Linked DNA regions of Homo sapiens. The protein of the gene in region 1 purifies or fractionates together with the protein of each later gene. This does not show direct contact. Each region holds a gene or a part of one and is shown on either strand. Other genes may lie near its edges.

Region 1 (7,036 bases):
GTAGATCATTGACTCACAGATTTCCAAGCAAGCCCTCAGTGAGATTGAGGGACGACACAAGGACATTGTGAGGCTGGAGAGCAGCATCAAGGAGCTTCACGACATGTTTATGGACATCGCCATGCTGGTGGAGAATCAGGTAAGTGGCAGTGAGTCCCAGCGTGGGGAGGGAGGAGAGGAAAGCTCAGGGTCTACTGAGAACAGGGAGAAAGGGAATACTGGAAGCCAGTGAGGTAGGGTGGGAGAACCATTGGGAATTTGCATAAAGGAGAAACAGAATCCCATGGGAAAGTGTGCATTCAAATTGAATGTTGACACTTTGGGTGATCTTAACCTTGTCATTCTTGCCTGTCCCTTTGGCCTTGCAGTCGTTGCTAGTTGATACAGGGTTTGATGTGTTCTGTCAAGTACCCAGTTTTCCTGGATTTTTGATTTTTTTTTTTTTTTTAAGATGGAGTATTGCTCTGTTGCACAGGCTGGAGTGCAGTGGCGTGATCACAGCTCACTGCAGCTTGACCTCCCAGGATCAAGCAATCCTCCCAGGATTTGTCTTTTTTTCTTTCTTAAAAATCAGAGATCCGGGCTCCTAATGGTGACGTTTTAAAACAGCCTCCTGATATGGACTAGTTCACTGATGACATTGAAAATGTGATCTTTTCTCTAGTTCACAGGGAAGACTCAGGTTTAACATAAATTTTTATTTTTTTCCATTTTTTTTCTGTTTGTATTTTTTTTTAATTTTGGCACCTTTTGCTAAGGCACAGAGCAGACAACAACATGAATGAAGGAGTAGCAAAATAGCATTGACAGAAAGACTCGAAACACTCGTGGTGCTAGTTTGACAGCTTACTTTGTCCCAGGCATGCTTGCTCGGGATAGAATTCTGGATTGCCTGCATAGGGCGCTAGTTTCGCATAGTTAGATGGTTCCTAGTTCTTATGGGACAGTTAAGTGTGCCACAGGGTCATGGTGCTGTGCACTGTTGCCATGAACTTCCAGCTGCTCTGACACTTGGGATAGGAGAGAAAATTGCTTCCATAGTAGGCAGACTGCACAACCTAGTTGAAGCTCGAGCACAGCTTGACTAGTTTTTGACATTGGTTCCCTGCCGAGGGCCTGGATGCTTTCCCCCCATTCCCTACTGGCCTCTGAGACCATTTCTCAAGTCCCTCCATCCCACCTCTTCTTTTCCCCCACACTGCCTTGCCGAGGAACTGGCTTGAGATTCAAGTGGTGGTAAGTGCCTTGTTCTGTTTACAGACTGCCATAAAGTGATAGAGTTGGGTTGGGTAGTTGAGGAGAATTCCTAAAATGCCTAAGATTAATTGGAATGATCAAACTTCCCTGTCAGGAAGTGATTGCTAGGAAATGGTTGGGAAGCTTATCAAGAGACCACTGTCTGGAAGGGAAAATATAACCAAATAGCTTGGGTAAACCCAATGTCTGTCAGTTAAAGGGCCTGGAAATAACTTAGAGAAAGCAAATGTTCCCCACCTCAGATAGTTATTGAGCACCTACTGTGTGCCAGGCACTCTTCTGCAGTTAGTGAATATACTCAATTCAGGCTGAATGATGTTGATTCAGGTCTGAATGACCAGGAAGAGGCCAGCATCCTAGTGATGTCCTAATAACAATGAGATATCCTTATTTTGGTTCCTCTCCATGTGCTTAAGTGTAAAAAAAATAACAAAGGTTGTCTGGGGATATCTCAGAGTATATTTATAGGTAGTTACTAGGTATCTAGATAGTATGTTCTGGATGCCTGGTGGAGTGCTGGTCACAGAGAAGTAGTAAAATTCACTGAATGTTTCTTGAACAAGTGACTGCCACCCCACCACCAAGGACTGTGAATGGGTGTCCTATGGAAGGCCATGCATCAAGGTTTGTGGATGCTCTTCTTGCCACTGAAGATTGTAAGAAAGAGAATCCCTTCCCCGCATTGGCTAGGACTGACCTGAGACGTTTACTTGGTGTGATCAGAGTCTGTTCTTTGCAGGGTGAGATGTTAGATAACATAGAGTTGAATGTCATGCACACAGTGGACCACGTGGAGAAGGCACGAGATGAAACGAAAAAAGCTGTGAAATACCAGAGTCAGGCCCGGAAGGTGAGACTCTCCTGTGGCCTTCAGAGAAGAGAGTCCATTTTGTTTGCTGTGTCTCGCTCTTTCTCTTCCCTCTCCCTGTCTCTGTTTCTGCTGCCACCACCTCTTGCATCTGGGGAAAGGGATCCATGATTGACCGTATTGAGAACAACATGGACCAGTCAGTGGGCTTTGTGGAGCGGGCCGTGGCAGATACCAAAAAGGCTGTCAAGTATCAGAGTGAAGCCCGGAGGGTGAGCACCTTCATCTCAACTGTCCTTCGTCTCAGCTGTCTTACTAGTATCTCTTCTCCCTGGCCACCCCTACCTGTGTTCTTGAGCCCATGCCTCCCTCCCTGTCGTAGCCTCATCAACCCCTCCCTCAGCTTTTCCTAGAGACAAGCTGCCTGCCCTTCCTTCCCAGGTGTGCCTTGCATGGATCTGGCTCACAAGCTATCTCCCCAAAAACCCACACTTGAAAGGCAGTTCTGTAGGATGGATGCATGGCCCAGGTGGTGCTGCTAATCTTCTCCTGGACTTAGCTCATGAGGCTTTCAGATGTTACACTTGACTCCTCTGTTCAGAAACCTTCTCTTCATTGTCTTCCACTCCAGGCGCCCAAGCTCCGCCTCCCTTCTCTTTTTCTCTACCTTGTACCTAGCTCATGCTAACTGCTATCTATACATTATGTCATATCTGATGGAGCACCTGTTATTTCTACTTTATAAATGAGACAGTTGAGGGTCAGGGGCTCAGTAACTGGCTTCAGGCCACCTAGTAAGTAGAGGCACTGGGATTCAAGTTCAGATCCCAATCATTCTGTTTCTACCACACCACTGTATTTGCCCACCCTCTGGTGCCCCTGCCGCTTAAGGACTTCTAGGCTTCTGTGCTCACGACTGTGGTTATCCAGCTCTGGTGGCGTCTGCTTTTTAGACTTCTCTCCTTTGACTGGTTCTCTTGGGCTCTGATATTGTTGTTGTTTAGTTCTTTGTTTTTCATCCAACTTTACCTATTGCTTATGCAGGGATTTAGGGGACTGGGAAGTTATTTTACATGGTGAATCCAGGCTGGGTGGCATTTTCTGATATCCAGGCAGTGTACTGGGTCTGACAGGTAGGAGTATGGGCAAAAGTAGGAAATTAGAACTCTATCAAAAATGCCTTTACATTCCCTCTTAAAATGGAAAAAATCAGTCAGTGACTTTTTATCTTGGCCAACTGCTCCTTAGAGACCCCACGATAGTGGCTCTGATTCTATCTGTCCACATATACAGAACTGCAGTGTGAGCTGAGAGCTGAGAGAGGCCCCATATTTCCCTCTGCTGGCATTCCTAGCCTAGAAGTAATTTAAGAAATTTAAACTGTCCTAGGCTGGGTGTGGTGGTTCACACCTATAATCCCAGAACTTTGGGAGGCCGAGGTGAGAGGATTGCTTGAGCCCAGGAATTTGAGACCAGACTGGGGAACATGGGAAGATCCTGTCTCTACAAAAATAAAGAAAATGAGCTGAGCATGGTGGTGCATGCCTGTAGTCCTATGTACTCAGGAGGCTGAGGCAGGAGGATCACTTGAGCCCAGGAGGTCGAGGCTGCAGTGAGCCATGATCATGCCACTGCACTCTAGCCTGAGTGATAGAGAAAAACCCTGTCTTAAAAATAAATGAAGTATCCTAGAAGGATGTCTGTATGTAGAGATGTAGGCCTCTTACTCAGACTGGTAAGATATTTTCTATGTAGAGGTGACAGGGGTTAGGTTTTGGATGAGTTGTTATTTTTTTGGTTGTTTGTAATAATGATTTGTTTTTGTCTTATTCCTCTCTCCAGAAATTGATAATTATCATTGTGCTAGTAGTTGTGTTGCTGGGCATTTTAGCATTGATTATTGGACTTTCCGTTGGGCTGAATTAAGAGTGGCCTAAGAGGCTGCTGCACTGAAATGTAAGTAAACGAGTGGTTCTTGGGGACTCTGGATTTGGCTCCTCAAGAGGAAATTAGCTTGGGATTTCAAATTCCTCTTCTTTCCCCCTATGATTGTCCTTGGACACACTGAGCTTTCTAAAACTTTCAGTAGCCTGTGGATTCTTTATCTCCTTATAGTTCTATTGGTTTCTGGCTGCAGTACGTGGATGAGCTCTCCGTTTGTTCTTATCCTGTAGATTCTGTCCCCAATCTCTGTCTTGTCGTATTACCACTTCTCCCAGCATACCTGAGCACCCCAGGTGACTCCCCTTACTCAGGAAGCATGCTTCTAAGTTGGGTACATCTCTGTCTTGGATCTGGAGTCTGTCTTCTGAATTCTTACTGATTTTCATGGATGTTGGGCTTTACTTTCTGTATCCTTTTCAATGTAAATGAAACTCTGAATTGGGATTTGGATCTGCAGAGTTTTCTCTGTTGCTGAGTGGTTGGGTCTTAAATGATGATAGTTAACACACTTTTGAGTGTTGTGTTGTACCAGACAATGTACTAAACACCTTATACACATATCATTGAATCCTTACAACATCCTTTGAGACAGATACAGTGTTATGCACATTTTACAGACAAAGAAACTCAGTCAAAGAGAATGTTGAATAACAGGGCCAAGTTCACACAGCTAATAGTGGACCTAGCTTCTCTTTGTAAAAGAAGGTAGCCACTTATCATTAACTATAAAGCCTGGAGAACCTTAGAGGATAGCGATGCTAAAATTTAGACTATTCATTTTCTTGAAAATTTGTTAAAAGTGATAGACTTACCACTGAATCACTGGTTTTTTTTTTTTTTTGAGACGGAGTCTTGCTCTATCTCCCAGCCTGGGGTGCAGTGGCATGATCTCGGCTCACTGCAACCTCCGCCTCCTGGATTCAAGCAATTCTCCTGCCTCAGCCTCCTGAGTAGCTGGGATTACAGGCACATGCCACAGCGCCTAGCTAATTTTTGTATTATTAGTAGAGATGGGGTTTTGCCATGTTGGCCAGAATGCCTTGAACTCCTGACCTCAGGTGATTTGCCCGCCTAAGCTGGGATTACAGGCGTGAGCCACTGCGCCCGGCCTGAATCAAAACAAACAAAAAACGTTTTTGTTGTTGTTGTTTTTTGTTTGTTTCTCATTCTTGTCCCCCAGGCTGGAGTGCAGTGGCGCGATCTCAGCTCACTGCAGCCTCCGCCTCCTGGGTTCAAGCGATTCTCCTGCCTCAGCCTCCCGAGTAGCTGGGATTATAGGTGCCTGCCACCACGCCCGGCTAATTTTTGTATTTTTAGTAGAGACGAGGTTTCACCATGTTGGCCATGCTGGTCTCCTGACCTCAGGTGATCCACCCGCCTCGGCCTCCCAAAGTGCTAGGATTACAGGCGTGAGCCACTGCACCCGGCCTGAATCACGTTTAATAGTAGTGAGCATATCAATCTGGTTATTGGGACTATTAAGACTTTTGTGACTTTAAAACAAACAATTTTTTTTTGTTGTTGAGATTGTGTGTTGCTCTGTCGCCCAGGCTGGAGCGCAGTGGTGCGATCTTAGCTCACTGCAACCTCTGCCTCCCAGGCTCAAGTGATCCTTCCGCCTCAGCCTTCTGAGTAGCTGGGACTATAGGTGTACACCAACACGCCAAGATAACTTTTATATTTTTTGTAGAGATGGAGTTTTGCCATGTCACCCAGGCTGGTCTTGAACTCCTGGACTCAAGCGATCCACTTGCCTTGGCCTCCCAAAGTGCTGGGATTACAGGCATGAGCCACTGCGCCCAGCCAGTGACTTTTAAAATATTTTTCTGAATAAAATATAGCATGCATTGTTAAAAAAAAACCTATAAAATACAGAAAACATAAAACTAATGAACTTTTAATATTATTGCTGATAACCTTGTGGCACGTTCACATACTCAGACATAGTTTTACATAGTTCAGACTATATTATCCAGTTTTGTACCCAGTTAGAAAATTATAAGCATCATTCCACAGCATTAAAATCTCTTTGTAAATCTAATTTTCAATATGAGATTGTGGCCATACTCTCAAATATTTAACATTTTCACAATGTTGGAGGTTTATGTTATTTTGCTGTAGCTAACAGTGTGACTAACCTTATTTAATATTTTTCTCATTTAAATTTTCTCTTTATTACCAACTCATATAAGTTGGAGTACTGAAATAACAGGTATAAACATTTTTAAGACTTGGCACATAATACCATGCCAGTACCCAGAGCTGTGCCTTCCTTTTATATTTGTTTCAGTGTGTCTCTTCTTATTCCTCCTCCTTCCATGTGACCAGGGGATCTAAAAGTCAGCTTATTACAGCATTGAGCATTCAACTTCATCTTGAAAGATAAGCAACAGTGAGATGAACAACCTCTCATAGACAGGTGGTTGGTTGATTTTTTTTTTCCCCTCTTTTTTCTGGCACTTGGAGTCTAGCCCTTGACTTTTTTGTATGTGAACTTTAAATTTTGGTTTGGCTCTGAACAATCTGATTGAAATAGATGTTGAAATTTTAAAAAGATATAAGAGTTGTTATTTTTCCATATCCTTGGATGAAAGATGATATGCAAATTTGTGGTGCCCCTTTCTATTCCTAATTCCAGGACTTCAGAAGGTATATGAATCATTTTTCAGGACGTAACTCCTCAAAGAGGAGCAGACTAATTAATATGTTGTTTTTGGTTGACTAACCCTATCTTTAACCTGCTAAATTGCTGAGCAGTTGTTAAGCTGCTTTTTTTGTAGTGTATTCCATGTTCCCTAACAAAGTCAAGACTGATTGTTGCCTAGGTCTGGACTCTCCTCTTCCTCCATGTCACCCAAGGGAGAGAGGTCTCTGAACAGGAGGGTAGACAGTGTGTTTATATTTCCTAGTAATGTGCCAGCTGCTTGCTCTAAGATCATAGTATCCTCATTTTACAGACGGGGAAAGAGCAATGAAGTTAAGGAACTTGCCCAAGACTACATAGCTCATAAGGTGGAGCAGCCATAA
Region 2 (7,036 bases), on another chromosome or scaffold:
CTGTATATTTAAATTTAAATCTGTATATTCGAAGCTAAATATCTTTCGTTTTTTGCACAAAAGAGCAGTTTTTGCCATTATGTAATTGGTAACAATATACCTTTATTTGTTTCATTAAATATTTACCAGCTCCTTTTTAGTATGTCTTGTTGTATGAACTAGTATAGAATATTTAATGTACATTGTGTTTTTGCATGTTTGAAAAAGTATCTAAAAATTATTAAACCAATCATAACAAAAGAAAGCATGTATTAAGCATATTTCACTTTATAATTTTATTTCAGTTGTATTACCACTCAATCCAAAAATTGTATTTTAATGTAGTAGGATTTTATATTAGTAAAATGTTCATGTTTTGAGTTACTCTTTGATTTATCAAATGTGTTCAGTTGGAGAATCGTCCTCAGGAAAGGCTTCAAGGAGCCTTGCACAGCATATTCCTGGCCCTGGTGGCATTGAAGGCGTAAAAGGGGCAGCATCTGGAGTTGTTGGTGAATTAGCACGAGCCAGGCTGGCACTAGATGAAAGAGGGCAGAAACTTGGCGATCTGGAAGAAAGAACTGCGGCCATGTTATCAAGTGCAGAGTCATTTTCTAAACATGCTCATGAGGTACGACTCTCAAACAGATATTTGAACAAAAAGCTCTAGGTAAAGCAAGTGTGAATGTTACTTTATTTTTATAGCTATTGTATTTCTACACCCATGAATTTGCATATATTCATTGTACAATTGCAAGTTCCTGATTTTTGCCACCAGAGGGAACCATTACAGGAATGTATCTCTAATAGCCTTTGGTTTCTTACTATAAGATTATAAATTTTGAAGGAATCTGCCCACCTTCAGGCTTTTGGTAAGCAAAGCTACCAGCTTTGCAACTGTTTCTTAAGGAATGCGATACCAATGTTAATTTTTCTTAATGCCTCAGAGTCTACTACCACTTTGTCCTAGAAAAAGAAATAATTTGCCTCCTTGAGTCTTCCAGATAGATATAAATAACTAAAATTGACAAACCTTTTTATTTAAATAAACAATACTAAGTCCGCGTTGTGGACCAATTCATATGGAGGAGTAGAGAGATGCATTTTGCAATGGTGGACCTAGGAAGTCATGATAGAGCTCAGAAACACACGCTGTAAAGTAGGGATCCCTGACTGGCCCCCTTACACCACATCGTGCTCTTAAAAAGCTGAATTTAAAAGCCTTTACGGGAAATAACACATTTTTCATTTTGACACACAGGCCTGCCTTTCCTTGGTGCTTTACACTAGGTTACTTCACACATCTAGTTCCTAGGCTGGCCCTGGAGGACATTTTGAATTTGTCTGAAGAAACAATTTTAAGGTTGTTTTTATATTTGAGCACCCAATCTGTAGTGGTAGCTCTTTTTTAAATTTTTCAACCAAAAGTCATTTCCTCCTTGCTCAAAAATGCGGAAATCTAGAATGCATGAAGAGGTAACTTGACCTGGAAGATACTTGTCTAGGGCTTCAGAGAGGTTCAGAGATCCTTTATGATTACTTGTACTATACCCAGGCACCTCAGATACAGGCTTGTGGTGGTCAATCTAGGTCAGGATTTTTGTTGTCATAACCCTACACCCGATTGTATGATCTCTACAGCATGTAGCATTTCAGTCAATTTCGGAATATATTCACACTCTGAATATTTAGGAAATATTTAATCTCACACTGTTAACTTTCCCTTCTACCAGTTGTTCTTGAGCCATATTTCAGAGTCTAAGGAAGACAGTACATTGAGGTAGTTACAATCACAGGTTCTTGAATTAGACTGCATGGGCACAAATTCCAGTTTCACTACTGCATTACCTTGGGCAACCCCTAGAAGCTTCAGTTTCATTTATTAAATGGGGAGAAAAACAGTGCCTAGCCCAAGAATGGTTATGACTGAAATCAAGTAGGAAAAGTGTGTCATGCAGTGTCTGGCTCAGAATAGATGCTCAGTAAATTTGAGATGGCAGGAGGAGTAGCATTTTCAACCTTTAATTCGCCAGTTCTTCAAGCATTATTTTTAATTCATAGTACAAAATAAAAATTATCTTACTTTTATATTACTAGCTTAGGTCACCAAATTATGTCACATTTCTAAGAAATCTGTGGAACTTCTAGGCTAGTTCTTAATGGATATCGTATTTTTTCCTCCAAATAGAATAGTTCTTACTGCTTTTAATAAGTTGAAGTAAGCATATAGTAGCACTACAGAATATTGCAGAATGACATAATGTTTTGGAAAAATATAGAAATCACTTATAAATGTTATTGTTCCGGCATTTTAAAAGCATGTTTTTCTTTTTTTTCCCCCTTTAGATTATGTTGAAATACAAAGATAAGAAGTGGTACCAGTTCTGACAACCAGAATCCAATAAGTCCAACTTCAGCCAGAAGGAAAAAAGTTTTCCATTTTTATTACATTCTTTAGGAAAGTTAACGTTAAAGGGATGTTCGTCACTGAATACTGTTCTTTCCTAGCACAGTCATGCACTGTTTTACCTCAGTCATGTGGCTTTAACTGAGGAGTGTTCACACGCACTCGAAATGGAGTATATGGTGTGTGCCAGTTATGAGTTGACCATTTGGGAATTAAACAGGTCACACGTGACAGATGAAGAAACCAAGGGGGCTGCTGAGGAGACCTGGTGCAGGGACTAATCCTGGATCATTCCTGTATTAAACTTTCATATGCCAAAAGGGTTTGTGCCGTTTTATCTGCCATCAGTGTTTGACCTGTTTAGGGCAGAGGCAATAAGTCAGAAGTCTTGAAGTTGAAATAGTTATATGTGTGTCATTGGACTGGATTATAAACAGCTGTCTTGGACTTTCCCTCTCTTAACACTGACTGGTCATCAGTATCATTAGTGAAAAAGAAACAAATTGTTTGTTATCATCTCTTTAGACAGATAAGCTGAATGGTGGGCTTTAAATAATAAAAACATACACATAGTTGACTTGTGTATGAGCTACTCTTGGATTCTTGTTATTATAGACTTGTATTTAGTTCATATTTTGTCAAAAGCAAAACAAGAAGATACATCACTTTTCATTGAAAAGAAAAGTGTAGAGCATGACTGAATTGCTCATCATTCTGGGAGTTTCCATGTAGTGGCTATGCAGTGTGGAAAGTGAGAAAAACCTCCATTGTGGTGAGGAGAATACTTCAATGTCCCTTGTCCTTGTTCTCATTAATTCAGCTAAAGGTGGATTTGACCAAAATAATGCTGGTTAAATTTGTAGAAATGTTGAAATTGGCTGTGTTTTAAATTTTGCTTGAATTTTTATAAAATGTTTAACCAAATGTACCTTTGCATTCTTTAATTAAAATTGCTTAAAAAAAAACTTTCATTATTTCAGTAAAATGCTCAGCTCCCTTTTCAAAATGCCCTTTATTTGCTAACTGTTCCAATACACTCAGGTGATGAGCCAATTAAATGTTAGTGCACATGCTATCGCATGGAAAATTACAAGCATCTGTTGTCAATAATTATATAAGAGTTTAGTCTGATGACCTACAAAATATTTTGTGTAGAAATATACTATAAATCTGTACATATCCTTTCAAGGTTTTAAAAAACCAAAAAGAAAGGAAAATATGTACACTGTGATAACTAAATTATTTCTGTATTGGAATATAATACAATTTGAGACCAGCAATGGACAATGAATGATTGTTTCATAGAATAGCATTACGGGCAGGAAAGAAACCACCTAGTAGATCTAGAAGTAAGCAATCTCAGAATACAGACTAATCTGAGATTATTATTGATTGTTGTTAAAGCAACCCAGCAAAAGCAAAATGGAAGCATTAAAATTAATGTTAATGAAATTTAAATATTGTCTTCTATAAAAAATTCCTTTAAATGATTTTGTTTTTTCATTAAGAGATAATCAGAGCACAAATTGATAGTAAACAGGATGGTTGTTTTTCTATTCTATATGATCATTAAAGGAATATGTAGGACATCTTAACTTTTTCATACAGTCTGTTATGCATATTTTCCTCTACTTTTCATTAATAAAGCTTTTATGTTTACATTTTATAACATGCACTACTAGATGCAAAAGTTTACATCAAAGTTTACTTTAAATATCATTTGGTAGGGACTAAATGTGTGTGATAGAGATAATTGATCAAGCCAAAAGAAATATTTTTTAAATAAGCCCTTTTCAAAAGTTTTTGAATTTATAGAAAGCACCAATGAATAACATATTTCTGTTTCGTTAATGTCAGCTGCCTGAACATTCAGCAGTTTATAAATTGCTTAATTTGTGTTATCTATTATCCAGTAAACCCATAGTTCCATGATATGTCACAGGAATTGTTAGGTCCTATTTTAAAGGTACAGTTTTGTGAATGTCATCAATAAAATCAACAGTTATGGATTTGAAGAAGTTGGGAAAGCATTATGTAGATTAATATACTGGTTGGTTCCCTATCTATGTGGAAGGTCATATTAGCTGCAATTATTTAATTTGCTGTGTTATTTTGTGTTATATAACACAAATATATTTGTATATTAACTTCATTTTTACTGTCATTTTTCCTGTTGTATACAAAATGAACTAATCTTGTAATTATTTTCAAATATAGAAGTATATACATTAGATGGATTTCCAAGATTTTGTAAGAAAATCTTAAATCAGTGTTTTGAGTTATTTAATTTTTAAATTAATCTACAAATTATGCACAACAAACTAGAGACTCAGTTAGGATTAGAAAGCTTAAAGTATGTTTGAGTGTAGGAAATAAGCTTCTCAGAGTTATACTTGATTCTGTCTGTAGATAAGAGACAGTCTACAGTAATAACTAACCCAGGGAATTTACTGTAATTTGAGAGGTAACATCTCTATTTTTTTCTTTTTAAATACAGAAAGTAATAGTCACCAGCAAGCCACGATTTCAGGAAAACTGACTAAAAAAAAAAGTCAAAATAGAAAATATCAGAAAAATGAAAGATTTTTGTGTGCCCTCTCCATATCCTCATTGTTTTTGTTGCATTTGTCCTTGACTCTAAAATCACTGAAGTATTCATGATTAGTAGTTTGTAAGTAGGAAGTGGTTTTTCTGTATGTACCATATATCCAGTTCATTTCAGTTTTCAAACTAAAATCCATATGTATTTGCTGAGAAAGTTATTTGAAATCTTATATTCTGACAAATTCTGTACATTACATCCATTTGAAGTTTTGCATCATCTTAACACTTTTGCTTTGCATTTCAATTGTACAAAGTGTTTCCAAAAAAATGGTTATAGATTCGACTGAGCTATTACTAACTTCTCCATTTGATTTTTTATGGATGTGAAAAATGCTGCTACTTGTCTATGTTATTATGTGTAAGTATATTACAATTTAATTAAGTACAATAGTTTAAAGAACGAAGCAATTTTTTTTTTTTTGGCTTAGAACTTCTTAATTGTAGGTTCCTCTGAAGCGATTTCATGTAGATATGTGAGTGTTTTAAACAAGTCTGAAAGTGTTACATACTTTTAGGTTACAGGGGTGCTGGGGAGACAGCTGAGGAAAGGAAGAATATGTGGAAGACACCACGGAGTTCAAAGTTTTACCCTGAGTTCTATCTTCCATGTATGTTTTGCTTAAGGCATTTCTCATGTGACATTAGAAAAGCTATATCCAAAGGTAAATTTTTTGTGGCAAAGATTTATTTTACACTTTAACTTTTGGGATTTTATTTGTTTCAGCAAAATAAAGAGCACTGAACTTTAAACTTGAATTTTTTCTGCACTTTTTTAGGTAATGAAAACTTTTTATTATCATTTAATCCACATTGCTCAGTTTAAACCAAGTGATACATGTGTATAAAACATACCAAAATCATGAATATGCTGCTAGCTGTACCTTAAATAAACTGATCAGTTTTAAAACCTTTAATAGGGTTTTATATAGATTTAAAAAATAGTAAAATAATCTGCTGTATGTTTCAGTGTTCTTGGTCTTAAATTATTGCAACACTTTCAGATTTGTTTTAAGATCATACAGTAACATGTTATATTTATACATACTGCTAGAAAATATACTTTTAGTTTTAAAATGGAATTTTTATAAATGTACTTTAATTTTAAAATGGTGAACTTGTTAAGTTTAAGTCAAAGTACTTAAAAAGTATGTATATTATCCATACAAAAAGTTATGTTTTACGCTTATAATAAGAAATACTGGTATCTCATATCGAGATACAATTAATTTTAAAAAATCATACATCATTTAAAAATCTTCACACATGAACAGGAAAGATATCATTTCTATGCTTTAAAAAACCCTCTATTGAGCATTTTCAAATATTAATTTTATTTTGGGGGAAAATGCCCACAACAATAATTGCAAGATCTTTCTCAATAGCTTCAGTTTGCTGTTGGATGCCTACCTTAACTATTGTTTTAAAATATAGATATATATATATATATTTAAAATAGTTTTCCAGGTATTTTCTTCTACCTTTTTTAAAAATAAATTTCCAAAAATGAAAACAGAGTTTATGTATTTTTGTCAATGAAGGTTTTTATTTTGTAGTTTATAGAATTTGTTCCTTATCAGTTTGATACTTGATCAACATTCTTAGACTTTTTAATCTGTATTTACTTTGGGGGGAAAAAAGCACTCCTATATCTTAAATGTCCTTCTTTTTTCTTTTCCCTTTTAGGGTATTTGTTCTCTTGGATTGAAATTTATGCCCACAGATTTTTCTTTTCATTTGAAAATGAATGTGAAGATACTGTTTACAGCTTTTGTTAATTGCACTTTTCATCACTCTGATCAATTTCTTGTAAAGTGCTATGGGAATTATTTTTCCTGTGAATATTAATGATTTTACTACTGCCTCCGAAGTTTTAAAAAAGGTTCTGTAGACAGAAAACAGTTGTTGCAACCAAAAACAACCAAAAAAAGAAAAAAAGGGAAAACTGGCTTACCTTTCTCAGATGAATTAAATGATTTTAATAACTTCCCAATTACCAGGGTTATAACATTGCTTTCTTCAGTTATTAATACAGTCAAATTAATTTTA
Region 3 (3,853 bases), on another chromosome or scaffold:
TCATGTCAGGGCACGTACTGAACAGAGCTGGATTCTCTTTTCTTTTTTGTCCAGCACAACACCATGGAGTCTCTGTTAGAGCGAGGTGAGAAGCTAGATGACTTGGTGTCCAAATCCGAGGTGCTGGGAACACAGTCTAAAGCCTTCTATAAAACTGTGAGTACCCAGCACCTGCTGCCTCCTGGGTGTTCTCTCTAGAGAGCAGTCGCAGCTTGCTGCTTCTGGCACTCTCCACTATGAACGGGTCTTTCTTAGACTGTTGAATCATGGTGGATGATTCCTTGTGCGGCAAGAGCCTAAGGTGAGCGCCTCAGGCCCAGGTGGTTGGAGGCAGTTCACTTGGGCGCCGTTGGAGTCGATGCGGGCCGAGGCCTTGTTCCACTCCTGCCTCTGCTCTGCCCTCTGCTGCTCTGGCTGATTTCTGAACTCCTACTCCCAGTCCAGGAAGGCTGGTTCAAGTTCTGATCACCAGAGATTTACTGTTGAATCTTATTCCTCTTTCTGCTGAGTAGACATAAGTCTTTAAGATGCAAGCAATTCAGCCTTCCTGAAGAGGTTCTTAAGCTTTTAATTTCCCTTTGACAGAAAATATTTAATTGACAAGGATGGGTGCTGCTGACTGCCGCTTTCTCTCAGGTCAGTGCTCATGTCTTCCTATGTGGAGATGGCACTGTTGGCCCATGGTTGGATAGTCATAGGGACAAATTTACTTGGTCTGTCCACACACATTTGCTTTCATGTGCACATTGGAGGGAGATGGCTAGGTGGGATTAGGAAGATAGTCTGTGACCAGAAAGCAAGAGAGAAGGTGGCAACAGTGGTCCCCACAAACCACATCCCAAGTGGGAACCACATCTGTTGTCCTCAGGACCATCTTCTAGGAAGAAACACCACCGTGGTGGTCAGATAGCATTGTGTGAAGACAGGAGTGGGGCAAAGTTAAGATATTCTGCCAATCCCATTTGTATTATTGGTCCTTTGTTTGTACCTGGCCTAACTGTAGGAATTTTACTCACTTTTTGATAGCATTAATGGGGTGTGAGAAAAGAAAGGAAAAAGGATCCCAGACTAGTTTTGGAAGCCGGGGCCCGCCTTGTGCTTGGTGATGGGAATTGCTTGTGGACAGCTTCCCTCAAGGCCTCCACCCCCACCCTGTTCTAGTGCTAGTTTCTCTGCCTGGCTGTGTCCTGTGGAGCTCCCTCTGCCACGCCTGCCAGGATTGGGGCTTCCCTTACTTCGTCAGTCCTCCTTCTCAGCTCCTCTTTGTTTTTTTCCAAGGCCCGGAAACAAAACTCATGCTGTGCCATCATGTGATGCAGCCTGCCAGAGGCCCAATGCTGGAATGGCACCATCATTCACATCAGAACTGCAGCCCCTGGAAAAGAAGAGACAGCCATAGACGAGGAGCCAGAGTGGGGGCAGACTGGCCATTTTTATTTTGAAGTTCCTGCGAGAAATGGATGGTGGAAGGGTGGCGAATGTTCAAATTCATATGTGTGGTAGTGATTCTTGGAAAGAATTTGAGGTCCCCAAAGGTGTATTTTTGGGCAAATGAAACCATAAACTCCGACTGGCTTCTGTAGATGCCAAAGGGCTCTTTTTCAGCTAACCCTGGGAAGGCTCTGTGGGAGGGAGGTCGGAGCCAGCTGTTTCTCGATCTTTGGTATATCTTTGGATCTTATTTGTACATTAATGATATTAACACTCCAGTGGGGGGTGGGGAGTCCCTGATGCTAGGGCTGGGGTGGGTGGAGTTTGAAGACTCTTGGGAAAGCCTCTCCTGGGGCCACTGTTGGGGGTGGGAGTGAGCCCACCACAGAGGCCACAGGCAGGCCCCCACTTCAGGCCCAAGGCCTGGGGCGGGGGGAACAGTCACTGGGTCTCAGATTCTGAGACTGTTGTTTAGCTTACCTTTCTGCTAGGATTGGCTTCCCGCAGAGGGCAGGGCCCATCCTAAGCAGCTTCCAAGTCCCACAAAGGTGGCTTGTGGGAGGATTTGGAAGGAGCTGCATTGTGGGCGGGGAGTGTGTGGGTTGGGTTCGTACCAGCAAGTAGACTAGGAACTGAGCCCAGGAAAGGGGGATGTTTTCCTGGTGTTTGGATGGTCAGCTGGGAGTGTCCATCATCAGGGGAAGATCAAACACAGGTGCACTCAGCTGCCCAGGGCCTCTGGGACACTTGCCTTGACTTGCAACTTGCCTTGAACATCACGATCAAAGCAGCAGGTGCTGTGGTCTCTCAAAATTGATTTTTATTTGACTCTGTGGCTCTAAGACTGCCTTGAACCGCCTGAGGCCTATGCATCTGAACAAGTGGGTCTCTCCCTTGAGCACCAGGAGTGGGTGCCAGCCGGCCCCGAGGATTCCCAGCACCCCACCTATGGTCTTGCCAGCATAGGCTTGCTAGTTCCTTCTTGGTCAGAGGTAGCTGCAGAGGGGGGAGGCCAAGGGTTTGGTCTAAGCTGTGCCCTGCCACCTGGCAGGAGGCCCACTCACTGCCCAAGTCATGGCAACAGGCTGGAGCAGCCCAGGAGATGGGCCTAAAATGTTCTGGATCCCTTGGGTCCTAGTGTTATGTTCCAGTCTGCCCACCTGTGCTCAGGATGCAGCCCTGGGATCCAGCACCCATGGAAGCTTCTGCTGGGATGGTGTCACCTATGGGTTTTGAACCAGTGTGGTATGGTCCTTGGGAGCTCTGCTCTGAGCTTGCCACACTGCTGAGAGCACCCACTGTCCTGACCAGAGTCTCAGTGGTCCTGACCCCCAATGTGGGCAGGGGCTGGGCAGGAGGGTGGGGTCTGCTGTGGGTTCAGAGGACTCCACCTCCTGGCTGGTTTACCTGCTGCTGCCCATTTTCTCTGGGTACTGCTGGCCAGAGGACTTTAGCCTACCCCTGAAGAGCCTGTCCATGTCATTTTCCTACTGCCATAGATACCCTAAGCCCAGGGCCCCTTGAGGCCCAGACTCAGCCTGCCCACTGGTGCCGGAGACGGAGTGGAGTGGGCCTGGATCCGAGGGATGCTACCTCTCCCTTTCCCACTTGAGGACCCTGGGGAGAGATGGGGGCGGGGAAAATGGAGGTATGAATTTGGGGTAAGAGGAAGTGAGATCTCCGCTTGCAGGTCAGCCCCTGCCTTGCAGGGCGGGCTGGCTTGACTCAGGCCCTGTGAGATAGAGGGCCCAGCCCAGCCCCACCCACAGATCCCCTGCTCCTGTTGTGTTCTGTTGTAAATCATTTGGCGAGACTGTATTTTAGTAACTGCTGCCTAACTTCCCTGTGTTCTATTTGAGAGGCGCCTGTCTGGATAAAGTTGTCTTGAAATTTCACAGTGGTCCTGTGCTTTCTTTGTGCTTCAGGGGAATCCTTTCTTCACCAAGCCCTTCCCCCGGGGGAGAGAGTGGCCTCATGCTGTGTGCCTGTGGGCCTGCCGCATGCAAGGGTCCAAGTTATCCTGACCAGCTCCTGTCCAGGAGAGGTAGCTGCAGGCCTGACTCCTTCACCTCCTTTCTATAGACCTTGCTAGCAGGAACTGTATTTTCTTTTTTGCTGTTAACCAGGTGAGGGAGCCCTGGAGTAGAAGAAGCCCTGTCATTGCTGAATCCTGTTGCCTGGTCTTAGCTGCAGCCAGGAGACCCACCCTAGGAAAGCTGCCTCATAGCTGCAGAGCCATGGGACAGGAGGCCCCATCCCCATCCTGATCCCGCTGTAGGCTTCCTGTCCCTCACCGCTGACCCCAGGGTCAATCTGAGACCACCTGGCATCCCACCAAGCACAGGTGGCAACTTTTCAGGAGCAGAGGGGGCTCCACAGGGTACCTGGAAGCTTCCTGGTTCCTGGAGGAGCCAAAGCTGAC
Region 4 (7,036 bases), on another chromosome or scaffold:
AAAGGACTTTCTAAATAAGACTTGATACTGGAAACCATAACGAATGGCTAATTTGCTTACTACACAGAGATATAATAGAAATAAGAAAAAGACAGTAGGAAAATGGACAAAGGATATAAAATTGCTTACAAAAAAATGAATGGCCAAAACTATAAAAACATTTTCAGCAGTATTTCCAAATAAAAATACAGAAATCTAAAAGAGGTGATTTTTCACATGTCAGATTAGCAAATGTTGAAACATTTATAACCCATTATTGGCAAGAGTAAAAATTTAAAAAGGGTACTCATATATTGCTGGTGGGAACATAAATTGATGTAATGTTTATAGAAGGCAGTTTAGCACTACCAGAATTTAAATGAATGTGAGATTCTTTGATCCAGTTATTCTTTTTTTTTTTTCTTGAGACGGAGTCTCGCTCTGTTGTCCAGGCTGGAGTATTGGAGTGCAATGGTGCGATCTCGGCTCACTGCAGCCTCCACGTCCTGGGTTCAAGCGATTCTTCTGCCTCGGCCTCCCGAGTAGCAGGAACTACAGGTGTGCGCCACCACGCCCAGCTAATTTTTGTATTTTTAGTAGAGATGGGGTTTCATCATATTGATCAAGCTGGTCTTGAACTCCTGATGTCATGATCCACCCACCTCGGCCTCCCAAAGTGCTGGGATTACAGGCATGAGCCACCGTACCCAGCCCTGATCCAATTATTCTATTGCTAGTCATTTACTCCTTTTTTTTTTTTTTAAGCTCTGTTGAACTTAATAGACATTTACTCTTTAAATATACTTTTTTTTTTTTTTTTTTGAGACAGAGTCTCACTCTGTCACCCAGGCTGGAGTGCAGTGGCGCGGTCTTGGCTCACTGCAACCTCTGCCTCCCGGGTTCACACCATTCTCCTGCCTCAGCCTCCCGAGTAGCTGGGACTCCAGGCGCTCGCCACCATGCCCGGCTATTTTTTTGTATTTTTAGTAGAGATGGGGTTTCACCGTGTTAGCCAGGATGGTCTCCATCTCCTGACCTCATGATCCGCCTGCCTTGGCCTCCCAAAGTGTTGGGATTACAGGCGTGAGCCACTGCGCCCAGCCTAAATATAGTTTTTTTTAAAATAAAAGAGTTCAGTTTAAAAAATATATGTAAGAATGTTTATTGGCAGTATTTTTTTTTTTTTTTTTTGAAACAGAGTCTCGCTCTGTTGCCTAGGCTGGAGTGCTGTGGTATGATCTCAACTCACTGTAACCTCTGCCTCCCAAGTTCAAGTGATTCTCCTGCCTCAAACTCCTGAGCAAAGTAGCTGGGACTACAGGTGCGTTCCACCACACCGGCTAAGTTTTGTGTTTTTAGTAGAGACGGGGTTTCGCCATGTTGGCCAAGCTGGTCTCGAACTCCTGACCTCTAGTGATCCGCCCACCTCAGCCTCCCAAAGTGCTGGGATTACAGGCATGAGCCACCCTGCCTAGTCTTGCAGTATTTTTAATAGCAAACAAAATGAAAACAACTAATGTGTTTATCAGTAGGGAATTTATTAAATTGTGATAGTCATAAGATAATATTCTATGCAGCTATTAAAAAGAATGATGTAGATTTCTTTTTCCTAATATGGAAAGATTGCTTGATACTTTATGAAGTACAAAAAGCAAGGTGTACATCAGAATGTATATTATGACTTACTTGGCAAAGTGAAAGAAATAATAGATAAGCTTGTATATGTAAAAACATATTTCCTGGCCAGGTGCAGTGGCTCACGCCTGTAATCCCAGCATTTTGGGAGGCCAGTGTGGGTGGAACTGTTGAGGTCAGGAGTTCAAGACCAGCCTGGCCAACATGGTGAAACTCCATCTCTATTAAAAATACAAAAATTAGCTGGATGTAGTGGCACGCTCCTATAGTCCCAGTACTAGGGAGGCCAAGGCACTAGAATCGCTTGAACCCAGGAAGTGGTGTTTGCAGTGAGCTGAGATGGCACCACTATACTCCAGCCTGAGCGACAGAGCAAGACTCTTGTCTCCAAAAAAAAAGAAAATAATAATTTCCTGGAAGAAAATACAAAATGATGGTAACAGTTATGAGGTATGGAGCAGAATGTTTTGTTTTCCTTTGTTTCACCTTTATTTCTTTTGGTGCTCTTTTAATATTCTCCTCCATGTTTATGTGTTACTTTTGTTTTTTAAAAGGTCAACAGGGACTCTGGGAGACAAGATTTTGATTTTCTTCTTTATCTACATCTCTGAATTTATGAAAAGTAATGAAGTACTTTTAACAGTGGTACAAAAATAGTAGAAAATGTTTAAAGATTATTTTGTTCCTTATAATTCTCTTGATTCTGTTCTTTTTTGTTTAGGAATTAAATTTTTTGTGAGAGCTCCAAAATGATGAAATTTGAAAATAAGCTCTATTAAGTATACTACTAAGTAAAAAGAGCCTCTCAAGTTTTCTCCTAGACTATTTGAAGTTATTTTATCTCAGAATTTTTTTCTTCTTAATTCTGCCTCGTAAGACAGAGTACTAGGAGGTACAAAGGATAGTGATTTAATGGCACTGTTTCCCTAGCACTGAATTATTTTCACTTGAAAGAAGTTGGTCACTCTTCAGGAAAGTAATTTTAAAGTTATTTTTACCTTTGGTTAATTTGATTTCTTAAATAGCAGTTTTCTTGACAAATTTACAGTGTGATGACGATACATAACTGGTTCAGTGAGATGAAAATCCATAATTAGCTTCTGTTGAGACTGGATGTTGATTTATTACAGGATTATACACATGAATTCCATAAAACCAAAGCAAACTTTATGGCAATACGGGAAAGGGAGAATCTTATGGGATCAGTACGAAAAGATATTGAGTAAGTTACTTTTTATATTATTTTGTAGAATATTTATTCAGATTTGGCTTTAGGATATGTTCACGGTTAATTGCAAATTGAGTGGCAGAACCGTGGTTGAGATTTTAGGGTTTCCAATTCCCATTTCACTGTCTTTTTAACATTGCTGCTACAATGTCATCCTAATCTACTTTTCCATTTTTATCTCATGCTTCCTCTTACTTTATCATTGGCTCCTGCCAACCTTGACTTTCCTGTCTTAATTCAAAGTCCAGCTTAGGTGGTTCTTCATGGTTCTCTGATCTCTTACCTCCCACCCTAAGAATTATAATGTTACTTTTATGATCCTCTGCAGATGTGTCAAAGAAAAAAAAATTCTTTAATTGTAACATTATCAGTAACTGAAGCTCCCTATGTTTCTCTTCCTGATTATCACCTATCCCCTGGCCCTCTCCCTTGTCCCAACAGTTACATATTACAAACAGTAATATGTACAAACTCACTCATAGCCTTATGTTAAATTATTTAAGGACTCCCAACATTCTCATACTGATCTCAATCTATAATTTTAAATATTTGTTTTTTTCTTCTGTCCCTTCACCTCACCTTTAATGATCTATTCTAGCATTTCATAGCATTTTTGGAAATTTTTTTACAACTGAACACTACTGACAAAGTTAAGTCCCATGGGCGTCTCATTGAAGCTGAAGATGTTCCAATTTGGAGCCATCTAATGATACCTGTCATCATCTCATTTGTGATAAATTATGTGATACATTTTATAAACTATGATACACATTTATGGTAAACTGTATATTATGTGTACTCTCGAAAACACTTTCCTAGAGATCCTTTATTTTATTGTAACAGTAACAGTTTCAACAGTAAGATTGTTGTAATATTTTTAGTCCTTCAGGACATTTAAGTCTTTTGTTTAATTTCCATGTAGTCCATTTATATATATGTTTTGAGGAATGCATTGGGAACCCATATAGGGGATGGTCTTTAATGTATAGACACTGAGCCCCCCCATAATTTGTGGGAATCACTAGAATGCAACCCATTGTAATAACTTGCTTTTTGAAAAATGGCCATAAAAGATATGTTCATCTATTCATTAAACTGTCTCCTGAGTATCAACTCTGAGTTAGTCACAGCAGAAGGTAGAAATGAAAAGACCGGCCAGGCGTGGTGGCTCCCGCCTGTAATCCCAGCACTTTGGGAGGCTGAGGCAGGTGGATCACTTGGGGCCAGGAGTTCAAGACCAGCCTGGCCAACATGGTGAAACCCCGTCTCTACTAAAAATAAAAAAATTAGCTGGGCGTAGTTGTAGGCATCTGTAATCCCAGCCACTCGGGAGGCTGAGGCAGGAGAATTGGTTTAACCTGGGATGTGGAGGTTGCAGTGAGCTGTGATCGTGCCACTGCACTCTAGCCTGGGTGACAGAGCAAGACTCTGTCTAAAAAAAAAAAGAAAGGAAAAGACCAATGTGGTCCTGTAGGAGTTTAGAATCTAGGTGCTAGAGGAAAGTATATGTAGTAGTTTACACAGTATTTTTTAATGTATTATATTTTTTTGGCCTCATAGCAATCTTTTGGTTAAGATAGAAATGATCAGTCTCATTTTACAAAACTAGGTATTGAGACACTTGTCTGAGGTGAAGTGGCTATGAAATGATTCAGTATAGATTTAAATCCAAGTCATCAGTCTCCTGAGTCCAATGTGTTCTTGGTTATATTATTCTGCTTTCCTTGGTGGTGGTTTCTCCTGTAGCACTGCCTTTCAGCCAGTATTTCAGTTTTAACAGCATGTTGGCTGCAGTGAGCCAACATTGTGCCACTGCATGCCAGTCTGGGTAACAAAGTAAGACTCTGTCTCCAAAAAAAAAAAATTGTTCCTGATACTTTATTATTAGTGGAAAACAGAAAAATTAAATTTTTGATAGTAGTGATAAGAGTAATTTTTTTGTCAACTTCAATACACTGAAGACCAAAATGGTTATCCTTAAGTGTGCCAAAATGAGCAAATCTTTAGCTTGATTTCAGTGTTCCTTAGGCTTCAGTTGGTGGACCACATATATTATTGTGAAAGAAAACATTTCATTTCAACAGCTTTCCCACCCTGTGTGCTGTGTACTAAATCAGTCCTAAGTTTTACTTCTACTTGGAGAAAAATGAAGATATCAGAGATAGGAGGTAAAGGAAAAGTAAGATTGTTTTGGTTGTTTGTTTCAGAATGTTGAGTTATTTTGGTGAAAAACAGTAAACTGTTGGGCCTAAATTAGAGATGCAGAGGCATTAATATTTATCTACCTAAAATAGATAACATTTTTCAGAGGGAAATGCAAAGGATTATGTACTTTCATTGTTCATTCAAAACTCTGGAGAGGCTCAATTTTTCTACTTTCAAGATCACTAGGGTCAGTCAATCTGATTTTGTATTCTCTGCCAAAAATGTTTTTAAATTTTCTCTTTTGTCCCAGGTCATATAAAAGTGGGTCTGGAGTAAACAACAGAAGAACTGAGCTATTTTTGAAAGAACATGACCACCTTCGAAAGTAGGTATTGAATGTATGTGCATTATGTGGTTTTCCACGTTTATTAATTCATTTACTTATGTAACCAACATTTTATGATGTTTATTATACTGAGTGCCTTGTCCATGCTAATTCATTTTATTCTCCTAATGACTCTTTTCAATAGAAAAGGAATTGCAACTGTTCCAACCATAATTAGGAAAGATCCTATGCTGTTGAATATTTCACATCACTTAATTGTTACCTTAATATGGTTGTTATTTTTTTTTTTTTTTCTCTGAGATGGAGTCTCGCTCCGTCACCCAGGCTGGAGTGCAGTGACTCAATCTCAGCTCACTGCAGCCGCTTGCCTCCCGGGTTCAAGCGATTCTCCTGCCTCAGCCTCCCAAGTAGCTGGGACTACAGGCGTGTGCCACCATGCCTGGCTAATTTTTTTGTATTTTTGGTAAAGATGGAGTTTCGCCATGTAGCCAGGATGGTCTCCATCTCCTGACCTCGTGATCCACCCACCTTGGCCTCCCAAATTGCTGGGATTACAGGCGTGAGCCACCACCGCACCCGGCCAGTGCATGTGCTAATTCTCTACAGAGAGAGACTGAGACAGGATGAAACTGAATGGAATAAGAGCTCCTGATGAATTAGATGAGTCGTAGAGACTGAAAAGATGGGCTTCGTCATTGCCCTCAGTATGATAACACAAGCTTCTAAATACTTCTCTTAAATCAATTTTTTTTTGTAATTACAAATACTTGCTAGGTAATAAAATAACATTAAAATTATCAGTAAAATATGTTTACAAAATAATGTGAAAAACTTTAGTTTTTCAGTGTTTTTGTATTTCATTTGCCAAGTGCTTTGAGGAAGAAGTGGCAAGATTTTTTTGAAATAACTTTAAATAACAAAAGCTAAATGCCTTTCATAGTGCTCATTTTAGAAAGTATGGATAGTTCAACAACACAAAAAGAAAATTGAAATGACACATTACTACAAATTCTGTAATATTTTTTACTCTTCAGTAGATTGCAAGCTTTTTCCCATATAATTTGATTTTTTGTTTTTTTAAAATAAATGGTGCATATATTCCATAATAAAGATAAACCATAAATTATGTAACCATTTCCCTAATGTTGGCCTTTTGGGTTATGTTCTGTTTTTACTATTATACACAGTAAAGCCTTTGTGTGTATCCGTCATGATTTCCTCATTCTAAATTCCTAAATCAGAATTGCAGGATTAAAGAACACACTCATTTGCAAAGTTTTTCTATAATATTGGCAAATTTCCAAGTTTGATATTTTGCAGTAGGGTCGGACCTTTTATGGCTAGAACTATGTTTAAGCTTTTGCTTCTTCATAAATATTGTTTTTTAATGTTAATGTAATTTTTTACTTGCTCCAAAAGCACATATTTTTGCCTGGAAAAAGAGTAAATCAGTTTTTGTAAATGAATGCCATACTTAAACACACACACACACACACACACAACTTTGTAATGAATTGTTTTTACCAGCTCTCCTTAATACTCTTTTTATATAAAAATAAATGCTGTTAGGTTTTAGCAATTTATGTTATGGATGACAAATTTCTTTTGCTATATGGTGGATAAAGTAACTTTCGTTTTTGGCTTCTCTTTCCCTGAGTCTGTCAGTCAGAAGAAAATACTGACTTTGAATTAGTGTCAAGCTT

Evidence for each region.
Region 2: the proteins of STX3 (region 1) and STXBP5 purify together in Homo sapiens (affinity purification with mass spectrometry; 4 studies listed by BioGRID and IntAct, with this or other methods). This does not show direct contact.
Region 3: the proteins of STX3 (region 1) and YKT6 purify together in Homo sapiens (affinity purification with mass spectrometry; 4 studies listed by BioGRID and IntAct, with this or other methods). This does not show direct contact.
Region 4: the proteins of STX3 (region 1) and GOSR1 purify together in Homo sapiens (affinity purification with mass spectrometry; 4 studies listed by BioGRID and IntAct, with this or other methods). This does not show direct contact.

Annotation. Positions count from the first base shown.
Region 1 is NC_000011.10:59,793,376-59,800,411, forward strand, and holds part of STX3 (syntaxin-3), read left to right. Parts: intron 1-4; coding exon 5-139; intron 140-1,996; coding exon 1,997-2,107; intron 2,108-2,226; coding exon of another isoform or gene 2,227-2,337; intron 2,338-3,907; coding exon 3,908-3,991; 3' UTR 3,992-4,021; intron 4,022-6,299; exon of another isoform or gene 6,300-7,036. UniProt on the Homo sapiens protein: Potentially involved in docking of synaptic vesicles at presynaptic active zones. Apical receptor involved in membrane fusion of apical vesicles.
Region 2 is NC_000006.12:147,382,389-147,389,424, forward strand, and holds part of STXBP5 (syntaxin-binding protein 5), read left to right. Parts: intron 1-389; coding exon 390-610; intron 611-2,325; coding exon 2,326-2,367; 3' UTR 2,368-7,036. UniProt on the Homo sapiens protein: Plays a regulatory role in calcium-dependent exocytosis and neurotransmitter release. Inhibits membrane fusion between transport vesicles and the plasma membrane.
Region 3 is NC_000007.14:44,210,969-44,214,821, forward strand, and holds the end of YKT6 (synaptobrevin homolog YKT6), read left to right. Parts: intron 1-54; coding exon 55-156; intron 157-585; coding exon of another isoform or gene 586-600; exon of another isoform or gene 601-640; intron 641-1,278; coding exon 1,279-1,314; 3' UTR 1,315-3,326; downstream 3,327-3,853. UniProt on the Homo sapiens protein: Vesicular soluble NSF attachment protein receptor (v-SNARE) mediating vesicle docking and fusion to a specific acceptor cellular compartment. Functions in endoplasmic reticulum to Golgi transport; as part of a SNARE complex composed of GOSR1, GOSR2 and STX5.
Region 4 is NC_000017.11:30,487,382-30,494,417, forward strand, and holds part of GOSR1 (Golgi SNAP receptor complex member 1), read left to right. Parts: intron 1-2,744; coding exon 2,745-2,836; intron 2,837-5,297; coding exon 5,298-5,372; intron 5,373-7,036. UniProt on the Homo sapiens protein: Involved in transport from the ER to the Golgi apparatus as well as in intra-Golgi transport. It belongs to a super-family of proteins called t-SNAREs or soluble NSF (N-ethylmaleimide-sensitive factor) attachment protein receptor.